Linked DNA regions of Homo sapiens: all the other regions are reported to be linked to region 1. Evidence: microRNA targets listed by miRTarBase, many of them from high-throughput screens and not tested one by one. Region 1 holds a microRNA gene; each other region holds the end of a gene's coding sequence.

What was found. The annotated mature microRNA hsa-miR-6780b-5p reads UGGGGAAGGCUUGGCAGGGAAGA and lies in region 1 at 2,602-2,624, opposite strand. An mRNA with a match to its seed (bases 2 to 7 or 8) in the 3' UTR can be bound and repressed. Matches are read on the target gene's strand: a 7mer-m8 pairs with bases 2 to 8, a 7mer-A1 pairs with bases 2 to 7 and ends in A, and an 8mer does both.
Region 2: the mRNA of HSPB6 is a reported target of hsa-miR-6780b-5p. Seed matches in the 3' UTR shown: 7mer-m8 at 3,649-3,655 and 7mer-A1 at 3,309-3,315.
Region 3: miRTarBase lists TAGLN2 as a target of hsa-miR-6780b-5p. Seed matches in the 3' UTR shown: 8mer at 4,673-4,680 and 7mer-m8 at 4,562-4,568.
Region 4: the mRNA of BBC3 is a reported target of hsa-miR-6780b-5p. Seed matches in the 3' UTR shown: 7mer-m8 at 1,188-1,194.

What each region holds. Positions count from the first base shown.
Region 1 is chr6:43,431,796-43,437,170 of GRCh38, reverse strand. It overlaps MIR6780B (microRNA 6780b), which reads right to left and starts at 2,629; the gene lies at 2,551-2,629. ABCC10 (ATP binding cassette subfamily C member 10) reads right to left here. Exons shown (of 22, transcript NM_001198934.2): 3 at 3,811-5,029; 4 at 2,323-2,550; 5 at 1,264-1,420; 6 at 924-1,033.
Region 2 is chr19:35,751,335-35,756,503 of GRCh38, forward strand. HSPB6 (heat shock protein family B (small) member 6) reads right to left here. Exons shown (of 3, transcript NM_144617.3): 2 at 4,438-4,560; 3 at 3,232-4,349. The coding sequence ends at 4,188. It overlaps LIN37 (lin-37 DREAM MuvB core complex component), which reads left to right. Exons shown (of 9, transcript NM_019104.3): 2 at 842-917; 3 at 1,100-1,150; 4 at 1,470-1,499; 5 at 1,580-1,665; 6 at 1,753-1,919; 7 at 2,683-2,823; 8 at 2,912-2,985; 9 at 3,059-3,185. The coding sequence ends at 3,140. Among named protein-coding and RNA genes, the nearest start is that of HSPB6, 3.1 kb to the right of the region's middle.
Region 3 is chr1:159,913,928-159,919,096 of GRCh38, forward strand. TAGLN2 (transgelin 2) reads right to left here. Exons shown (of 5, transcript NM_003564.3): 5 at 4,184-5,014. The coding sequence ends at 4,873. Among named protein-coding and RNA genes, the nearest start is that of TAGLN2, 9.0 kb to the right of the region's middle. RefSeq lists an enhancer at 3,990-4,879.
Region 4 is chr19:47,217,395-47,222,563 of GRCh38, reverse strand. BBC3 (BCL2 binding component 3) reads left to right here. Exons shown (of 4, transcript NM_014417.5): 4 at 646-1,740. The coding sequence ends at 762. Among named protein-coding and RNA genes, the nearest start is that of MIR3190, 7.0 kb to the left of the region's middle. RefSeq lists a silencer at 2,345-2,545.

The DNA.
Region 1 (5,375 bases):
CTCAGTGGAGGGTGTGTCCACAGAGAGAAGAGAACCAGGCAAATACAGGGAGAGAGGCACACAGAAGCAGAGAGCTCTGCGAGTTGAGGCCTGGTTCTGGGCTGTTTCTAAGATCCAGCTGCGTTCCTGCCTTTGGATTCTGCAATGTATCTCTACATCCTTATTATAAATTCTTGTTTGCTTAAGCTAGCTCTAGTGTGTTTCTGTAACTTATACCCAAAAAAGCCCCAACTAACACATTAGCAAAATTCCTTTGTACAAATCTAGCCTTGTCTTGCCTGAACTAAGAGGAAAAACAAAACATACAGCCCAAGCCAGAAACGTGAGCCAAATGTGGTGGAGGCAATTCAGCCACCACCAGAGAATGCCGGGTTGAGCTGTGGGGCACAGGGTTGGACAAAGGTCAGGAGAGAGTGAAAACTCAGAACAGGAGGTGAACAGGAGTTGGCTTATTGCCAGGAATGCCCCATTTTAAGTTCTTTGTATGCTGTAGCATGAGTCACAGGGTGTGATTGCTTTTCACCAGCCTAAACAGAGGATCCCCATTTGCAAAATATTTCTTGGAAGCACTTGCTGGGCCTCTCCCCCAGATCCCCAATCTGGGGGAGATGCTACATAAACCCCAGGGCCTGTTCTGAATGCTGCAGCTTCTGAGGGACATGGAGAGACAAGCACACCCATTGGTCTGGACTGGATGGATACAAGCTGCCTAAAGACCAGAGAGAGGTGCAACTATTCTGAGATTCAGATGTGAGGTGTCATCTCCTCATGATTAGAACCTGCTCACCAAATGCCTATCCCTCCTGCAGCAATTAGAGCTGCAGAGCCATCAGCTATGATTGGCTCGGTCACTGCTTCTCTGACATGAGTTCCCATCTCTCTCGTTAGTCTGAGGACTCTCCCAGGGTGTCTGTCCAACAAACCTTTTTCACTTCGAGATGACTGATGAAGGTCTCCAGGCTGGTTCCAACTGGGTCCCAGGAGAACAAGGCTCCATGCAGCTCCAATACTGTAGATGGCTCTGCAGGGGGATCTGAACAGAGAAGCCACTTGATTTGGGCTCCTAATCTACCACAATCTGTTTGGGGAGGGTAAATCATGTAATTCACTTGCCAGCCCCATATCTACCTGCCCAAAGCTAAATGAGTCTGTTTTGGATTCCGCTCTCTCTAAGCCCTCTTGGTGACATCTATGCGCAGCACCCAAGTGGCTCCACTTCCCTCCTCACCCTGTGCCAGGTTCTGCCCACTAGCTTCCCATTACCTGGGCTGTAGTAGGCCTGGGGGTTGTGGTTTGGAAGGTCGAGGAAAAGCTGGATCCGGTCCAAGGACACTTTGGCCTCCAGGAGACCATTGATCACCCAAGGGAAGTTGTTGAGAGGAAGAATGAGCATTCGCACCAGTGCCAGGGCCGTGAACACCTGAGTGAGGTGGGTGCAGGGTGAAGCCCCAGGAGTTATCTAAGGGCCTGTTTCTATGGGAAGCCCTGTGGACAGGTCTACGGAGGGAAGAACTGGGCAATGACAGAACTGAAGGGCTGGCTGGCCAATCCTGGGATCAGATGTGGCAGAGATGGTCACTTAAAGAATCCTAGAAATTCCAATGTTCCTCAAGGGATTCAGGTTGCATTTTTTTTTTTCTTGACGAGTCTTGCTCTGTCACCTAAGCTGGAGTGCAGTGGCATAATCTCGGCTCACTGCAACTTCCACCTCCAGGGTTCAAGTGATTCTCCTACCCTAGCCTCCTGAGTAGCTGGGATCACAGGCATGCATCACCACACCTGGTTAATTTTTATATTTTTAGTAGAGACAAGGTTTCACCATGTTGGTCAGGCTGGTCTCGAACTCCTGACATCAGGTGATCCGCCTGCCTTGGCCTCCCAAAGTGCTGGAATTACAGGTGTGAGCCACCACGCCTGGCCAAGGTTGCATCTTTTTAACTAGGCAGGCCTAGCTCATTTTGAGTCTTTTTTTTAGAATTTCCAAGTAGCAACATCACCTGGCCTTGGCTAGACCCAGGATTGCATCATACATTTTTTTCCTAAGGCCATTAGAACGAGGATGAAGAGACCTAACCCCAAGCCTGGAACTGAATAGAAGCTGGAGTGAAAGGTAGAGGAGAGGAAAGAAAGGAACTCCTTCACAGAGGGGAGGGTTATATATCCAAGGCCCCCACAAAAAGGTTTCTTCAGTTTTCCCTTGGTTGAGAGATGAGGCAGTCAGGGATCCCTCCCTCCTTCTCAGCCAGCACTGAGGGCCCAAGCCTCTGTCTTCACTTCGCTGAAGTCTCCTTGATGCTGGTCCCCTTCCTTCCTGGTCCTCACCTTGGTGGCAGTGAGCTGGTGCCCCATGAGGACATAGGTGATGAAGATAACGATGGAGATGACAACCGGTAGGGCAGCCCACAGGTATACACAGGCCGCATCCAGGTATTTGATGACCCGGAGTCGCCCCAGCTCTCGAGCCCGGCAGGCCTCTACTCGGGCTCCCAGTGCCTGCTCCCACCCGCAGAACTTGATGACCCGAATGCCACTCAGCAGCTCTGTCACAAGCTAGGGAAAGGAGACAAGGGAGAGGCGTGAAGTGGAGGCACTGCTCATGTGTCTTCCCTGCCAAGCCTTCCCCAGGCTGCTGGCAGAATGTTCAGTACTCTAAGCTCCCAGATACTCTGCACTGCCCTAGTCTTGGTTTTCTTCCTCACCTCAGTACTTTCTGGAAATCCTGCCCTTCAAATCCTTTTCAGCCCTGGGTTGCTTCCCCTCCCAGTCTCTTACTTCTCCATTTGCTCCAGCTGGGGACAGCTTGGAGTGGGAATTCCCCACCTTCCTAGGAGGAGTGGTGGAAGGTGGAGCCAGGTCACCACAGTGGAGTAAAAGCTCTCCTCCCATTAGATGAGGGACAAAGGGCTATCTCCCAAAACCAAAAGATGTGGGCTTCGGGGGCTGGCCCCCCAGTTCCGGCCCCCGGCTTGAGTGGCACAGAAACTATTCCTGTAGAAGTACACAGGCATAAGAGGCCACACTACAGCCCAGGGTCAAACAGGCTAATGGGCCCAGGGAAGATGGGCAAGGGCCAAAACTCCTCGTCTGTAGCTGTCACAGGTAGGGGAAAATGCCTCATGCCATAACCATCTATCAACCTCCCTTCCCTCCAGGAGCACTCTGAGCTGTTCCACTAAGGGTCGACAACTATGCTGTATGAACCCCCAGGACTGCCATCCCCTTTGTGAAGGTACCCACAATCACTGCAGAACCCAGAGCTCTGCAGATTCAGCCAAACCCTAAACACCTGGAGTTGACCCAGGCAGGAAAGTGACCTATTCCCTTCCCCTCAGCCTACCCAAAGAGGCAGCTGAGGTTCTCCTAGGTCTCTACATGCAGCCATGGGGTGGTCTGTGCCCTAGATAAGGAGGTTGGAGACTTGGGTCCCAGCTCTGGCCCTAAAGACCTGTTTGGAGCCAGACAGATGACTTCCTACCTCCCAGGGTGGCCACATGTATTCAGAGCTTACTTTGTGACTGGCACTACACTAAGCATTATCTCATGAGATCCTTACAACTCTACAAGGTAAGCTACTACTATTCTCACTTTACAGATGAGGAAGGGGAAGCCCAAATAGGTTAAGTGACTTGTCTGAAGTGATTGAACCAGTAAGTGTAGAGCCAGGATTTGAACCCAGGTCTACCTTTCTCCAGTCTCAGCTCTTAACTTTGAGGTCACTCTCACTCCCTCAGGTAGTGTGCATGGGAAGACCTGGGGACCTGGGCTGGGTGGGGTCTCCAGATAGCTGAGGGACCCCAAGTACCCGCTCACCTTAACCCGCGCATCCTTGTGCTGTAGCATTTCCTGGTTGCTGGCCATGATGCGGGTGGCAATCACTTTGTTGACGGGTACCAGCAGCAGTGCCAAGATGAGACCACCCACGAAGGCCACGCCTACCTGCTGGTACAGCAGGTAGAGGGTGATGGCCAGTTGCAGGGGCAGGCCCCAGGCTTCATGGAAGCTCCCAGCAAAGTTAAGCAGCCGTTCAGAGTCAGTGCCTAGTAGGTTCAGGGCCTCCCCAGTAGGAGGGCGGCTGGGCCCCAGCTGTAAAGCCTTGCAGTACAGGATGTTCAGCACAGCCCCCCGTGCCTGAAGTGTTACCTTATATACCTCATACCCATACTGATTCTGCAGCACAGCACCCAGCACAGCCCCACCGGCTAGCCCCAGAGCATAGAGCAGGCCGTGGCTTAGTGGCTCCTGCCCCTCTTCCAGGAAGCCCACCAGTAGGGAGAGCAACAGGGGCCCTGAGAATCCCAACATGGTCCCCACCAGCTTCAGCAGTCCAAGTGCCAGATAGCACCGTCCAAAGGCCCCATACAAGGCCCTCCACAGCCGTGCCCCCTCCTGCCAGTGTGCCTGGAAGACACGAGCCAGGTAGGTTGGCTGCAGTCTGTGGGGGAGGCGGCAAATGTCCTGAGGCTGCCGGAGCTCTCCACAGGCCCCACGGGCCAGCAAGGGTGCCAGCCAGGCATAGGAAAAGCGTGACAGCCAACTCTCCCCATCTTCAGCCACCTCAGGTTCTTGATCCTCGGGCAGGAGGGGCTCCTGAGCCCAGGGTTCTCGTGGTCCCCCAGGAGCTGCCCATCCCAGTGCATAGGCCAAGAGTGCAGCCAGCTGCAGGATGAGCAAGCATAGGCGGGCCATGGGCCCTGGGAGAAGTGGGGGCAGAAGTGTGCCTCGCTGGCAATGCCACAACACGGTCAGCACTAGGGCTGGAGCTGGCAGCAAGGCTACCAGGGCCAAGGCCAAGGGACCCCGGGAGTGGCCATGAGGGGAATGTGCCAACACCCACAGGGCCAGGCTGTGGCTGATCCAGGCCACAGCTGCCACGCACCCTGCCAACACCTCTAGCCCTATGGGTCCTGGGCCTGCCCCTGGTGGCAAAGCAACTGGAAGAAGGTCTAGCAGCGGGAAGACGGAAAGCAGGAAGGAAGCTGCAAGTCGGAGGCGCCATCCAGGACTGCAGGGTAGGATGTAATCTGGACTCCTGGGGACAAGGGGGAAGACAAGGAGGCACATCGTGGCTGACTCAGGAGCCAGACATACCCCTCACCTCCAATAATTCACTTACCTAAGGAATCAACTCCCTTCCTGCCTTGCACATCTTATCCCTACTCCACTTTACCTCAGAACCCAGGGTCTTTTCTCCCAGGAAGTCTTCCCAGATGAACCTAACTCATTTTCTGACCAACTGAGCTAACCGGCCACCTGAACCTAACTCATTTTCTAAACTACCCACACCATTTCTGATTCATGTTTTTTTTTAAACCACAGACATTAACAATTTTGAGGTAAGATTGTACTTAACATGAAGACTAACTAGGAAAAAAAAA
Region 2 (5,169 bases), not on the chromosome of region 1:
CATTAATTAATTAAAATAAAATTATACCACTGCCTCAACCAGATTCTGCACTCAGGTTGAGCCTCTGTCTCATAACTTCAGCTTTGGAACCAGACAGCCTGGGTTCAAATCATCAGCTCTGCAATTTCTTTGCTGTGTGCCTTTGAGCACGTGGCCTAACATCTCTGTGCCTCAGTTTCATCATCTTTAAAATAGGAATAAAAATCATATCTATCTGAGCTGGGCTCTATGGCATGTGCCTATAGCCCCAGCTACTTGGGAGGCTGAGACAGCAGGACCGCTTGAGCCCAGGAGTTCAAAACCGGACAACATCGTGATATCCTTTTTCAAGAAAAAAAAAAATCACATCTACCTCTAAGGGTTATTGTGATAATTCAGTGGGTTATTATTTGTAATATATAGCATATTTAAACCTTGCCACTGGGACAGGCACAGTGGCTCACACCTGTAATCCCAGCACTTTGGGAAGCCGAGATGGCTCACCTGAATCTAGGAGTTCAAGACCAGCTTGGTCAATATCATTAAGACTCCATCTCTATACAATTTTTTTGTAATAAATTTATATTATATTAAAACACATTTTTTTAAAACCCAAAAGGCTCATAAGGTAAGGTGATTGGCCTTACCTCCTGTCACAGAGCAATCACGTGGGACAGCTCTGGAACTCAGAGCTCTGGGCATCACTCCAGCCATCTCTGCCTGTTGCACCCTTTCAGGCTGCCTGGGCCTGGCTCTGAGATTGGCCAGGGCAGAGGACACGCACGCCCTTCCCTGGCCCAGTCAGCTGCCCACCTAGCTGGGGCCTGGGAGCTGACTCCTGCTGGGTCCTCTCTTGCCCCAGAGCTGGAGATGGCCAAAGCCCGGAACCAACTGGATGCTGTCTTGCAGTGTCTGCTGGAGAAGAGTCACATGGACAGGTAGGCCAGCGTGGGGTCACAGGGCCGGGCACCCTGGTGGGTTGGGCCCTCTGATCCTGGGTGGATTGGGTGGGACCCCACAGGCTGACTTGGGGAGGAAGGTGCTTAATGGGGAGGCTGCTCGGTGCCTTCCTTCTCTGGGGCCCTGGAACCCTGAGCTGAGAGATCTCTTCTGCCTCTAGGGAGCGTCTGGATGAGGAAGCTGGGAAAACACCCTCAGACACCCACAATAAGTGAGTTTTTCTGATTGGATTTGGAGTTGAGAGTTCGTGGTTGGTAACTTCTTTCCTTATCCAAGCCCTGACCGCTCAGCCCAGCGCTACCTCCATCGTGGCCCGGACCACTCCACCTGTACAAAGACCCTGTGGCAGGAGAAGCTTAGGTCCCCCCGTGGTTGCCACCTAGACCCCCATGGGTATGGGTGGGACAAAAGGCCCAAGAGGCAAGTGGGGTTCATGTGAGCATCTCAGGTTTGATACCAGTATCCCCAGGGTGCCCTCTGCAGGGTTTTGCACAGGCGTTTGTCTGAGGGTCAACTGTCTTTCCCCACAGGGACTGCTCCATCGCAGCCACTGGCAAAAGGTAAGGTGGCAGGGTCCCAGCCAGCTGACTAGAGGCTCCCAGCTCCTACCCCAGTCCTGACACTCCCTCTCCCTACGCAGGCCATCTGCCCGCTTCCCCCACCAGCGGAGGAAGAAGAGGAGGGAGATGGATGATGGGCTGGCTGAGGGAGGGCCGCAGCGATCCAGTGAGTAGACAGTGGCCCTAGAGGGTCGGTAAGGAGCCAAGGGCCTATGCAAGGATGCTCACACACCTCCCATCCCCACCTTCCCAGACACATATGTGATCAAGCTGTTCGACCGGAGCGTGGACTTGGCCCAGTTCAGCGAGAACACGCCACTGTACCCAATCTGCCGCGCCTGGATGCGCAACAGCCCCTCTGTGCGCGAGCGTGAATGCTCTCCCAGCTCACCCCTGCCCCCGCTGCCTGAGGATGAGGAGGTGGGATGGGTAGTGGGTCCCAGCCCAGCAGCCTGGTGCCAGGGCAGTGGGTGGATAGGCTCAAAGGATCCTGCCCCTAAGCTAGTGGGATAGACAGACACAGGTCCCTCACGTGAATCCTGGATCAGGCTAGGCACACAGATGTGCACTCTTAGGTTGGGGTGTGGATCAGAGTCCCTAGGGAAGACATACGTAACCACCTGGCCTGGGAGACAGGGAACAGGGTTACCCTGGACAGTTAGATGTGGACCTCCAAGATCAGGGGTTCCCAAGAGCCGAGGGGCTAGACAAGGGTCCTTAGTACAGACAGAAGTGGCCACCAGGCCTTGAGGAGCAGGGGCTGGGCAGGAATGGATGGGAGTCTATAAGCCATCTGACCCAGCGGGGTAGACAAGGGTCCCCAGGACAGACATATAGGACCCTTCAGACATATAGGACTGTCAGAAATGGACAGAGCTTCCTAGGTGGCACAGACGTGACCCCCTAGACAGGATTCCCTGAGGCAGGCAGACGCGACTCCCTGGGCTGACAGGTGTAGATGGAGTCTCTGGGCTGGATAGGAGAAGACAGGGGTCCCTGGGGCAGGCACACTTGACCCGCTGGCTGGTTGAGGTGTCTGCCCTTCATACATGCCTCCTGTCTGAGTCCCTTAGCGAGCCCCTCATGCCATTTGTTGCTGGGAAAGGCAGGAGGGATGAATGTGGATTCCCAGCCCCTCTGCTTTGACTCTCTTGGGCCTGGCATGGGGCCCTTGTGTCCCCAGGGCTCAGAGGTAACCAACAGCAAGAGTCGTGATGTGTACAAGCTGCCGCCACCCACACCCCCGGGGCCACCCGGAGATGCCTGCAGATCCCGCATCCCATCTCCACTGCAGCCTGAGATGCAGGGCACCCCTGACGATGAGGTGAGTATGCCAGGCTGGCCCAGGGTTATGGGGCACATGCGGTAGGGCTCAGGAATGGCCACTCAACCTGGCCTGTCTGTCCATGCAGCCCTCTGAGCCCGAGCCCTCACCCTCCACACTCATCTATCGCAACATGCAGCGCTGGAAACGCATCCGCCAGAGGTGAGCGTCCCCCAGCCTGCTTGCCCCTCGTAGGGCCCTTTGCAACTGCTGAGTCTCCCCTCTGCCTCCCCAGGTGGAAGGAGGCCTCTCATCGGAACCAGCTTCGTTACTCAGAAAGCATGAAGATCCTACGAGAGATGTACGAACGACAGTGATGTTCCCAGGTCCCCCCACACCAGTAAACATCCCCCAGCTCCACACTGGTGTCTGCTCCGGTCCCTCCTTCCTGGCCCAGGCACAAAGCAGTTGGCAGAGCTCTAGCACATTTATTGGGAGAGTAAGCCTGGGAAAGACTAAGGGAGTGGTGGCAGGGAGAAAGGCTGTGGGGAATCAGAGCGGGTGCTCAGTTGGGTCTTGAAGGAGAAGAGGAGGAGGGTGGGAGGTGGGTTGCCGAGGATATCTGGTTGAAGACTTGGGGGTCAAGACAAAGGGACTTAGGGGGATGGGGTCTGGTTAGAGTTGGGGAGGGGGCCTAGGACATCCGTGCAGAGTCTGGGGAGGTTGGGGTGGGAGAGTCTGTACAGTTTGGTGTTGGGTGTTCTAGTTGGCCTGGTGTCCAAGAGTTGGGGCAGTCGAAAAAGGGTTCCAGAGTCTGGTGTGGCTGGCTGGGGTTTCACGGCAGAAAATGGGCTGGAGGGGGCAGTTGTAGACTGTCTGGTTGCAGGGGAAGGATCGGGTCTTGGGAACCAGGCCTGGATGGTCTGGAGTGGGAGGTCTGTGCAGTCCAGGACGTTTGGGGGGTGGGGGGATTGTGCCTGACTGGCCTGGGGTTGGGGGAGGGCTGTCTACACCATAATTTGGTGTCAAAATAGGGAAGGGATGGAAATGTAGTACCCGGATGTCTTTGTAGAGGACTCAGAAGGAAGTAGAGGAGGGGTCTTAAGTGGGGCTATATGCCAAGAAAGTGGGTCGGTGGGGCTGAGACTGTCGGCTGAGGGTTAGGGTAGTGCTGGTAGGGTCTGGAAGCCGGGGAGTTGTCGGTGTGGGGTCGGAAAGCTGGAGGGGGTGTGAGAGCGAGGGTGTCAGTGGAAGGGTCTATGTTATCAAGGCAGTGTCCAGGATGGAGGTCAGGGCAGAATCCAGGAGTGGGTGAGAGGACAGTCCTTGGCGCACTCGGGACATCTGGCTGGGCGGAGTCAGATCGGCTTTAATAGAGGGAGCCTGAGGAGGCTCCCGGGGTGCGGGCGCGGCCCAGCCCCCTCCTACTTGGCTGCGGCTGGCGGTGGGGCCTGGGCCGACGCTGGTGCGGCCTGGATGGACAGGACGCCCTCGGGGGACAGCGCGGACGTCACGGCAGCCGGATCCACGCCAGGCGGCAGGCGGTAGCGACGGTGGAACTCGCGCGCGACGAATCCGTGCTCATCCTGGAGGGGAGGGAGGCTTGAGCGGCCCCGCCCCTCCGGCCCGGCGGCGAGCGTACCCGCTCCAGCCCCGCCCCACGCCGCGGCTCACCGGGCGCTCCTCGTGGCGCGCGTGCACCTCCACGTGTTCGCCCACCACCTTGACAGCAATTTCCTCCGGCGAGAAGTGCTTCACGTCTAGCAGCACCGAAAAGTGGCCGGGGTCCGTCGGCACCTGAGCGCAGCGGGCGCGGGCGGGACTGTCATTGGGCTGGGCCAGGCTCCAGGACCCACCCAGGGAGACCCCACCCCCGTCGGTTCCGTGCCGCGGCTCACTCTGGCCTCCGGAGTTGAGCAGTCAGCTCTCCTACTGGGAGTCACCCAGGACCTCTTCACCCTGAACAACAGGGATACGCCCTCCCCCTGTAATATCTGGGATTGCCCTCTCCCCCGCAGTGATGAGGCTCCCTTCCCCTGCAAGGTCAGGAACCTCTGCCCTCCCCCGGTGTCAGCGAATCCGAAGTCATCGTGCCCCCCAGGGCACTGATTCCCCAGCTCCCTCCTCAGAGCCCCGGGTCCCTTCTCCGCCAGCCCCGCCAAACTCGCCAAGATGCCCCTTTCCCCGTCTCCAGGGTCCTCTGCCTACTCTCCCACTCGAGTCACGGGACCTCGGCAGCTACTGGTAGCCTTCCCCCACTTCAGAGTGGCCGGGAACCCTTCCTCAAGTCGCAGGGCCCTCTCCCCTCCTCTTCTGGAGATATCGGGCCACCGCACACAGTCTCTCAACTCTTCCCCGAGACTAAGAACATTCCTTCCCCTCAGGAGTCACTGCCCGCCTCCTTTT
Region 3 (5,169 bases), not on the chromosome of region 1:
TAGGCTGCAGAGAGCTACGCTTGTTACCCACAGGTGAGCCAAACTGGGTGGAGCATCTGAAACCTTCTTCCTTCTCCCCCTCTTCCTCCTCCTCTCTGCCTCCCTTCCCCAACTCTCCTTTCCATTGGCCATCATGGGCCAAGCCTACTTTCCCTCCACCTCCACAGTGATTTTCCACTTCCAGGCTGAAGGCAAGGAGCAAATGAACCCAAGCTGGCTCCTACCTCTTCCTCCTGCCCTCCTCCCATTTTTTTCCCCCAAATCCTCAAATCACCTTCCATGTGTCCAGAGCATGCAATCCACCCTCCAACCTCCTCTCCTCTATCTGTAGGAAATGCAGCTTCTTGGGTTTTTATTTTTTGGAAATGAATAATCTGGAAGCATTGGAAGCAGAGACATGAGCTGGGCTGTATCTCAGATATGATGAAAGGCTGGGTTGCTAGGCCCTTGGGCTGGCTGGGCACTGTGTTGCCAAGCCAGGGGGCTGAGGAGCATGAGGGTGGTGTCATGCTCACTCATTCATTCAACAAATATTTATCCAGCACCTACAACATGCCAACCACTACTCTACATGAGCAAAACCAACAAAAGCCTGCCTTTGTGTAGTTTACATTCTATGGGTGGGGACAGAAAATAAATAAGTAAAATATATTGGGTGTCAGGTGGTGATAAAAGAAAGCAGGAATGGAGCACGGGGTCCAGGCTGAGGGTGAAGTGTGCAGTTTTAAATGAGGTGATCAGGGAAGATGACGTCTAAACAAAAACCTGAAGGAGATAAAGGAGCAAGTGAGGGCAGCACCTGGAAGGAGATTGTTCCAGGCGGCAGGAGAAGCCCTGCAAGTGCAGAGTGTTAGGAGACACCTCTGTAGCGCGTTGAACAATGAGAACACGTAGACAGAGAGGGGAACAAGACATACCAGGGTCTGTGGTCGGGGAAGGGGTGTGGCGAGGGGAGGGTGAGCATCAGGACAAACAGTTAATGTATGCGGGGCTTAAAACCTAGGTGATGGGTTGATAGGTGGAGCAAACCACCAGGGCACACGTATACCTATGCAACAAACCTGCATGTCCAGCACCTGTATCCCAGAGCTTAAAGTTAAAAAAAAAAAAAAAGAAAGAAAGAAAGAAAGAGTTGAACAATGAGAACACATGGACACAGGGAGGGAAACATCACATACCGGGGCCTGTTGTGGAGGTGGGAGGCTGGGGGAGAGATAGCGTTAGGAGAAATGCCTAATGTAAATGACGAGCTGATAGGTGCAGCAAACTAACATGGCCCATGTATACCTATGTAACAAACCTGCACGTTATGCACATGTACCCTAGAACTTAAAGTATAATAATTAATAATAATAATAATAAAGAAAAATGTAAGAAAGAGAGAGAGACACCACTGTAGACAGCCACACAGAATAAGGTGTTGGGAGATGGCAAGAAAAGGCAGAACCATACACAGGCTGGTGCCTAGTCTGGGCCCCAGGGCCTGAAGTGGGGTCAGAGATGAGAGAAGCCAAGTTAAGGATGAAATTGTAACCTCAGGTGAGACAAAATGCTAGAAAGCAGACAAACAGAAAGCTGGAAAATGTTGAGATGCCACTGGAGGCCGGCTCCAGAAGGAAGCAGCTGAGTCTGCAGTTAGATGAATTAAGGGAACATTGAGATTCCTCACAAGGCTTGGGTGGTGGTGGGTGCAGCCAGAAGAAGGTGAGCCCAATGGCTGAGCCCCTCTCAAATACAGCTGGTGTCTCCCTTGAAAATAAGCTGTTCCAGGTAAAGGGGATAGGGCCACTGAAAGCATCTTGGCCCGTGTTCAACAGGACAGTGGTGAAGGGCATGAAACTGCTGGGCATCAGCTCCCTCTCAGCCCAGGGTCCATACACAAATGTTCCACCTTTTATTCCCCACACTTCCATTTCCTGAGCACTATGTGCTAGCATTCCCCATGCAAAGTGCTTTCCAGGGTTCATCTAATCCTCACGGCAACTTCACGAGGAAGGAATTATCATCTTCAGCTTACAGATGAGGAGCATTGCCCTGCCACCCACCACCACCTCTGTCCCCTAGTCCCTTGACAGCTTCACTTCTTGCTGAGCCTAGAGCTGCACAGGCTCAGCCAGGTTCAGAGCCAGCTTGATTGGATGCAAATCCCTGCTTCTCCCTTAATTGCTTTGTGGCCCTGGGCACATTCCTTGGCCCTTCTGAGACCAGTATCCTCATCTAAAGACAAAATGGGGAACACATTACAGTAATATCCACCTCCTGGGCGTTTGTGAGAATCTTCTGGGAGAAGGCAGTGGTTCTCAGCGCTGGCACTGTAACAAATGGCATTTCTCAGAGTTGTGAGGCGTGTGGCCAATAATTTATAGCTATAAATAGTTAAACCAGGGAAGGTGGCAAACGGCTTGTTGTTTTAGTATACATAGCGAATTCAATGTTTTCTCTGCAATGACATCACTCTCCCTGACTAGCATTCCACAAAGCCTTCCTGAATGAGAGATAAAGGATCTAATCCCCTGGGAATTTGCCCATAGGCTGCAGCCTATCTTATCTGTGCCACAGCCTGTGGGAGTGCAGCAAGCAAGCAAATACAGTCTCTCCCGAGGTGTGGTGTGGCAAGGCTAAGCGTGGTGTGGGGATGAGGCTGACAGCCATGGCTATGAAGAATTGGCATTGGGCCTCGCCCCTAGTGGGTGCTTTTTGGAAGAGGGAGCCTCAGAGAAGCAGGGGAACAAAAGGGGAGAGAACAAAAGCTCTGGATACAAACCTGTTTCCCTCAGGCACAGTGTTGTGGCTTTCTCCTCCTAGGAGACAGAGATACCCTCAGGTAGAAAAGGGGAAAGGGGCAAGGAAGGCCAGGCCTCTGGGTGAGGCTGATGGGGCTGGAACTTAATGTCAGACTGGCCCAGCGTCCCTCAAATTCCCCCTGGGGAGACACAGAGTCTGACTGGGAAGCCTTGGGGTAAAGGTAACACCTAGTGGTTAGAAACTATGGGTGGGGCTCCCAGCACTTTGGGAGGCTGAGGCTGGGGAGTTGGGAGATGGCAAGAAAAGGCAGAGCCATGAGGTCAGGCAGATCGCTTGAGCTCAGGGGTTCGAGACCAGGCTGGCCAACATGGTGAAACCCCATCTCTATAAAAAATACAAAAAATAGCCAGGCACGGTGGCTCACATCTGTAATCCCAGCACTTTGGGAGGCCGAGGCTGGCAGATCACCTGAGGTCGGGAGTTCAAGACCAGCCTGACCAACGTGGAAAAACCCCGTCTCTACTAAAAATACAAAAAAATTAGCCAGGCGTGGTGGCACATGCCTGTAATCCCAGCTACTCAGGAGGCTGAGGCAGGAGAATCGCTTGAACCTGGGAGGCGGAGGTCGCAGTGAGCCGAGATCATGCCACTGCACTCCAGCCTGGAGAACAAGAGCGATCATGCTACTGCACTACAGCCTGGGTGACAAAGCAAGACTCTGTCTCAAAAAAAAAAAGAAAAGAAAAAAAAAGAAACTGTGGGTGGAACACTCATGCCTCGGTCAAGGATAGGTGCTAGAGACAACCTGACCCAAAATTGATGATCATGGCCCAAGGCCACACCCTAGAAAGGAAGTTTTAGTCTCTCCCAGGCACTTAGTTCACAGGTGCTTAGGATCAATCAACACGGCTTCTTCCCTCCAGCGACCACCACCAACTCACTCCTGCTCATTCCCCAGCTCTCCACGTTTCCTCACCACTGCAACCCCCACCCTCACCACTCCAACACAGACCACCTCACCCCAAGCCCGCCTGAGGGACCTCTCACCTGGAGACAGCTTCACTTGCCAGGACTGATGGCTGTGCCAGCAGCCAGCCCCACCCTCTCAGTGACTGAGAAGCTGTTCCAACTGTAGAGGCAGACCCAGCCAAAGGCAGCAGGCAGGATTAGCCAATTCCATTGACTAGAAAGGGCCTTACTTCCCTGTGGACACTGCCTACATAGTCTGCATTCAGCTGTGAGGTCCTGTCCCCTCTCAATTCCAACCTACACCACCCCCCAAAGCAAGTGAGAATGAGGATGGGGAGGAAACTCAAGACAGGGGTTAGCACTGCAACCTCTCATCTCTGCCCTCCTTCCTGTATCACTCACTGCACTTTGCCCAGTATTCCTCCCTTCCCCACAGTGGCACAGTGGCCCCAGACACAGCCAGAGTCCATTCAAAAATGACAAATTCTTTATTTAAATCAACAAACTCATCTTCCTCAAGCCCCAGACCATGGTAGGCAGCCCTCCCTCTCCATCCCCTCACCCCACCCCTTAGCCACAGTGAAGGGAATGGAAAATGAGAAGCCACGAGGGCCCCTGCCAGGGAAGGCTGCCCCAGATGTGTGGTGAGCACAGTCAGTGCAGCTGTGGCTGGGGCAGCAGCTGCCACAGGCTCCTCCCTATAAATTAAGTTCCTGCAGCCACAGCTGTGGGAGAAGCATACTTGTAGAAGCAAGGCCAGTCCAGCATCAGAAGGCAGAGGCAGCATCAGTGACTCCCAGCCATGGAATGAACGGAGGACACAGAGCTCAGAGACAGAACAGGCCAGGGGGAAGAAGGAGAGACAGAATAGGCCAGGGCATGGCGGTGAGGGACTGAGGCCCCTAAATTTTGGTCCCAGGGGAAAGGAAGAGGCCAGTTGGTCCAGTTTTGATGGCTATGGGGAAGGGAATGTATTAGTAAGCATGGGGGAGAGGATGCCAGCAGGCACCTCAGAGGTGACAGGACAGGCTGAACCCCCCACCCTGACAGAAAGGAGCTTGAGAGCTCTGGGGCTCTCTGGGAATGTCACTGCTAAAATATATATCTACATATATATTAACCATTCGTGGGAGGGCAGGGGCAAGGCCTGGGGTGGGATCAGAGGATCTGGCGTGGCATCCCGTAGCCAGTCATGCCTGCCTGAGACGCCCCGCGGTTGGTGCCCATCTGTAACCCGATCACGTTCTTGCCCTCTTGCAGCTGGTTATCCGAGAAGTTCCGAGGATTCTCCTTGGATTTCCTGGGTGACAAGGGAGTGGTGGTTAGAGGAGATCACAGGCTGCCCTAGTAAATCCCTTCCTTGGACAGAGCACAGGCTTTGCTGTTGGCTCAAGGGCTGGTGCCAGCTCTGCCCTCGAGAGCCATAAGCTCTCTGAAGCCACCTCCTCATCTGTC
Region 4 (5,169 bases), not on the chromosome of region 1:
CGCCGGGCCTCTGTACTCTTTTTAGTATTGCCTTTAATTTTTACCAGTCGGGAGCCTTTCCTAGGACCTAGCCTCCTGCCTGCCCACTTCCTAGGATGTTGGAGCTGAGAGGGTCCTAGAGACCACCTTGTTTTCATCCTGCCACTGGAGAGGGGGCAGGGGTTTCACTCGGCGTTGCCTAGAGGTGCTTCTGTTGAAGCCTCTGCAATGGGGGGGGCTCTTCCCAGTTCTCCTCCTTCCACAGATTGTTCTAGAACTGCCAAGACTGTGGGCACCCTGCTCCTTTCTCCTCATCTTGCCAGCCCTGTAGGGAGGGGCAGGATAGGTTGCAGTCCATCCTTCAGCCCCTTGGGGGATGTCTTTCTCAAATGTACAACAGAGACGGGGCAGTCACAGCTAATGTGCCACGCACTCGCTTGGTGCCCAGCTCTCTGCTGAAGGCATTCCGTGTTTGTCCTCTGCCTCCAGGTCTCATGTCCTGGATGAGGATGTGACCTCCGAGACATGGACATTAGCCCAGGCGGGGGGAGGAGCTGGAATAGGGTGGGCGAGACTGTCGCCTCGCTGCCCCTGGAGCTGACCATCCCCACTCCCATCACCATACTCAGTCCCCTGCTAACTGCCCCTTCTCTCTCTTTTCCCCAGAGACAAGAGGAGCAGCAGCGGCACCGCCCCTCACCCTGGAGGGTCCTGTACAATCTCATCATGGGACTCCTGCCCTTACCCAGGGGCCACAGAGCCCCCGAGATGGAGCCCAATTAGGTGCCTGCACCCGCCCGGTGGACGTCAGGGACTCGGGGGGCAGGCCCCTCCCACCTCCTGACACCCTGGCCAGCGCGGGGGACTTTCTCTGCACCATGTAGCATACTGGACTCCCAGCCCTGCCTGTCCCGGGGGCGGGCCGGGGCAGCCACTCCAGCCCCAGCCCAGCCTGGGGTGCACTGACGGAGATGCGGACTCCTGGGTCCCTGGCCAAGAAGCCAGGAGAGGGACGGCTGATGGACTCAGCATCGGAAGGTGGCGGTGACCGAGGGGGTGGGGACTGAGCCGCCCGCCTCTGCCGCCCACCACCATCTCAGGAAAGGCTGTTGTGCTGGTGCCCGTTCCAGCTGCAGGGGTGACACTGGGAGGGGGGGGCTCTCCTCTCGGTGCTCCTTCACTCTGGGCCTGGCCTCAGGCCCCTGGTGCTTCCCCCCCTCCTCCTGGGAGGGGGCCCGTGAAGAGCAAATGAGCCAAACGTGACCACTAGCCTCCTGGAGCCAGAGAGTGGGGCTCGTTTGCCGGTTGCTCCAGCCCGGCGCCCAGCCATCTTCCCTGAGCCAGCCGGCGGGTGGTGGGCATGCCTGCCTCACCTTCATCAGGGGGTGGCCAGGAGGGGCCCAGACTGTGAATCCTGTGCTCTGCCCGTGACCGCCCCCCGCCCCATCAATCCCATTGCATAGGTTTAGAGAGAGCACGTGTGACCACTGGCATTCATTTGGGGGGTGGGAGATTTTGGCTGAAGCCGCCCCAGCCTTAGTCCCCAGGGCCAAGCGCTGGGGGGAAGACGGGGAGTCAGGGAGGGGGGGAAATCTCGGAAGAGGGAGGAGTCTGGGAGTGGGGAGGGATGGCCCAGCCTGTAAGATACTGTATATGCGCTGCTGTAGATACCGGAATGAATTTTCTGTACATGTTTGGTTAATTTTTTTTGTACATGATTTTTGTATGTTTCCTTTTCAATAAAATCAGATTGGAACAGTGGATACTCTTTCTGCTTGCCTTCCCTGCAGCCTGGCCTTGGAGAGGCTTCTGATCGGGGGCTCTGCTCTGTGAGCCCTGCTTGTGAGTGGGTGGGAGAGGTGGGCCCTGGCAGTTGTGGCTCCATCAGAAGAAAGGCTAAGGGGCCTGGGCTTCTCCAGACCGGGACGCTCCTAGCCTTCATCATCCCCATTCCCGGTAAAAGTGAAGCTTGGCCTGGTGCCATGGCTCATGCCTGTAATCCCAGCACTTTGAGAGGCCGAGGTGGGTAGATCTCTTGAACCCAGGAGTTCAAGACCATCCTGGGCAACACGATGAAACTCCGTCTCTACAAAAATAAAAAAATAAAAAAAATTAGCCAGGCATGGTGGTGTGTGTCTGTAGTCCCAGCTACTCAGGAGGCTGAGGCAGGAGGATCACTTGAGCCCAGGAATTGGAGGCTGCAGTGAGCGATGATCAAGCCACTGCACTCAAGCTTGGGTGACAGGGTGAGACCCTGTCTCAAAAACAAAATAAAAAGTGAAGTCCCCATGAGGTGTTGTAGGGGCGCTTGATATTTAATGGATGAGTGAATGACCCGTAACATATTCAGAGGCACCACTGTGACAAGTGCTTGGGATAGAGTCATGAGACAGACCTCGTTTCTGCCGTCACAGAGACAGAAAGGGACATCTGGCCTTGCACTGTGATCAGCCGTAGGCTGCCTCTCCAGCTGGAGGAGCACCTGGAGCTAAGATCACAGTGAGTCTCCGCACACTGCCCTGAGGCCTAACCAGGCTGGTCATAAGCGGCTGTGTTGAGTAAATGTAGAAAGGGTTGCTCCTACTGCCATCTTCTGCAAACAGGGCCATGGCCACACACTGCCCTTGAGCCCTTTCCCTGTGCTGATACCTGACTGGCAGAGACCTCAATGAGAAGCAGGGAGGTAGGCAGATCACCTGAGGTCAGGAGATCGAGACGAGCCTGACCAACATGGCGAAACCCCGTCTCTACTAAAAATACAAAAATTAGCTGAGCGTGGTAGCGAGTGTCTGTAATCCCAGCTACTGAAGAGGCTGAAGCAGGAGAATTGCTTGAACCTAGGAGATAAAGGTTACAGCGAGCCAAGATCCTGCCATTGCATTCTAGCCTAGGTGACAGAGCAAGACCCTGTCTGGAAGGAAGGAAGGAAGGGCATAATCCCAACACTTTGGGAGGCCAAGGTGGGCGAATCACCTGAGATCAGGAGTTCGAGACCAGCTTGGCCAACATGGTGAAACCCTGTCTCTACTAAAAATACAAAAATTAGCCAGGTGTGGCGATGCAAGCCTGTAGTCCCAACTACTCGAGAGGCTGAGACAGGAGAATCCCTTGAACCCGGGAGGCAGAGGTTGCAAGTGAGCCGAGATTGCACCACTGTACGCCAGCCTGGGCGACAGAGGGAGACTGTCTCCAGAAAAAAAAAAAAAAGGAAAGAAAGAGAAAGAAGCAAGGTATAGGCCAGGTGTGGTGGCTCACACCTGTAATCCCAGCACTTTGGGAGGCCGAGGCGGGTGGATCATGAGGTCAGGAGATCGAGACCATCATGGCTAACAAGGTGAAACCCCGTCTCTACTAAAAATACAAAAAATTAGCCGGGCGCGGTGGCGGGCGCCTGTAGTCCCAGCTACTCGGGAGGCTGAGGCAGGAGAATGGCGTGAACCTGGGAAGCGGAGCTTGCAGTGAGCCGAGATTGCGCCACTGCAGTCCGCAGTCCGGCCTGGGCGACAGAGCGAGACTCCGTCTCAAAAAAAAAAAAAAAGAACAGCCTAGAAACATAGCAAGACTCCATCTCCACACACACAAAAATAATTTTTTTAATTCGCTGGGCATGGTGGCACATGCCTATAGTACCCACTACTCAGGAGGATGAGGCAGGGGGATCATAGCTTGAGCCCAGGAGTTGGAAGCTACAGTGAACTATGATCATGCCACTGCACTCCAGGGCAACAGAGGGGGACTCTGAAGCAGGGTATATAATTATATAATATTTACAGACACAGGGTCAGTCCCAGCTCCACCCTTTCCCAACTGTCCTTGCTGCTAAAGGGACACTAGGGGAAATGGCCCATCTGGATGGCCAGGGTGTGGTAACTGGCAACAATCACTTTGGAGAAGCATTTGATAAAACCGTGTGTTGGGATACGAATGTGTCCCCCAAAGTTCTTGGGTTGGAAATTTAACCTGCAGTGCTACAGATTTTAGAAGTGAGACATTTAAGAGATAATTACGTCACCAGGGCTCTGCTCTCAGAAATGCACTAATGCCATGACCATGGAAGTGAGTGAGTTTTCACGGGAATGGATTCCTTATAAAGAATGAGTTCACCCCTCTGTCTCAGATGAGATGCCTTCCGCTATGTTACAAGGAAGCCGGAAGGCCCTCACCAAATACCAGCCCCACCATCTGGGACTTTTCAACCTTCAGATTTGTGAGCCCATAGATTTCTCTTTTTTTTTTTTTTTTTTTTTTTGAGAGGGAGTCTCGCTCTGTCTCCCACAGAATCTCACTCTGTCTCGCAAGCTGGAGTGCAGTGGCACAATCTCAGTTCACTGCATCCTCTGCATCCTGGGTTCAAGCGATTCTCCTGCCTCAGCTTCTCTAGTAGCTGGGATTACAAGCATGCCCCAACATGCCGGGCTAATTTTTTGTAGAAATGGGGTTTCACCATGTTGGCCAGGCTGGTCTTGAACTACTGATCTCAAGTGATCCACCTGCCTTGGCCTCTCAAAAGGCTGGGATTACAGGTGTGAGCCAGCGCGCCCAGACAGATTTCTGTTCATTACACGTTTCCTAGTCTGTGCAATTCCGTTACAGCAAGACAAAACAGACTAAGACATGGTGTCAAGATGAGAATGCACATACCTTGTGGCAGCAATAGCTTTTGTGGGCGTCCCCCTTAGAGGAACACGGGTGCATACAAGTATCCAAGTACTGGCAATGCACAAAACCATCTAAGTATCCAACAGCAGTTGGTAGGGTAAATAGTCCCATGTGGTGGCCAGGCCAGGTGGCTCACACCTGTAATCCCAAAATTTTGGGAGCCCGAGGTCAGGAGTTTGAGACCAGCCTGGCCAACATAGTGAAACCCCATCTCTACTAAAAATACAAAAATTAGCCAGGCGTGGTGGCATGCGCCTGTAGTCCCAGCTACTCAGGAGGCTGAGGCAGGAGAATCGCTTGAACCCGGCAGGTGGAGGTTGTAGTGAGCAGAGATTGTGCTACTGCACTCCAGCCTGGGCTACAGAGTGAGACTCCGTCTCAAAAAAAACAAAAAAACAAAAACAAAAAAAACAATAAAAATACGGCCGGGCAGCCAGGCGCAGTGGCTCATGCCTGTAATCCCAGTACTTTGGGAGGCCAAGGCAGGCGGATCATGAGGTCAGCAGTTCGAGACCAGCCTGACCAACACGG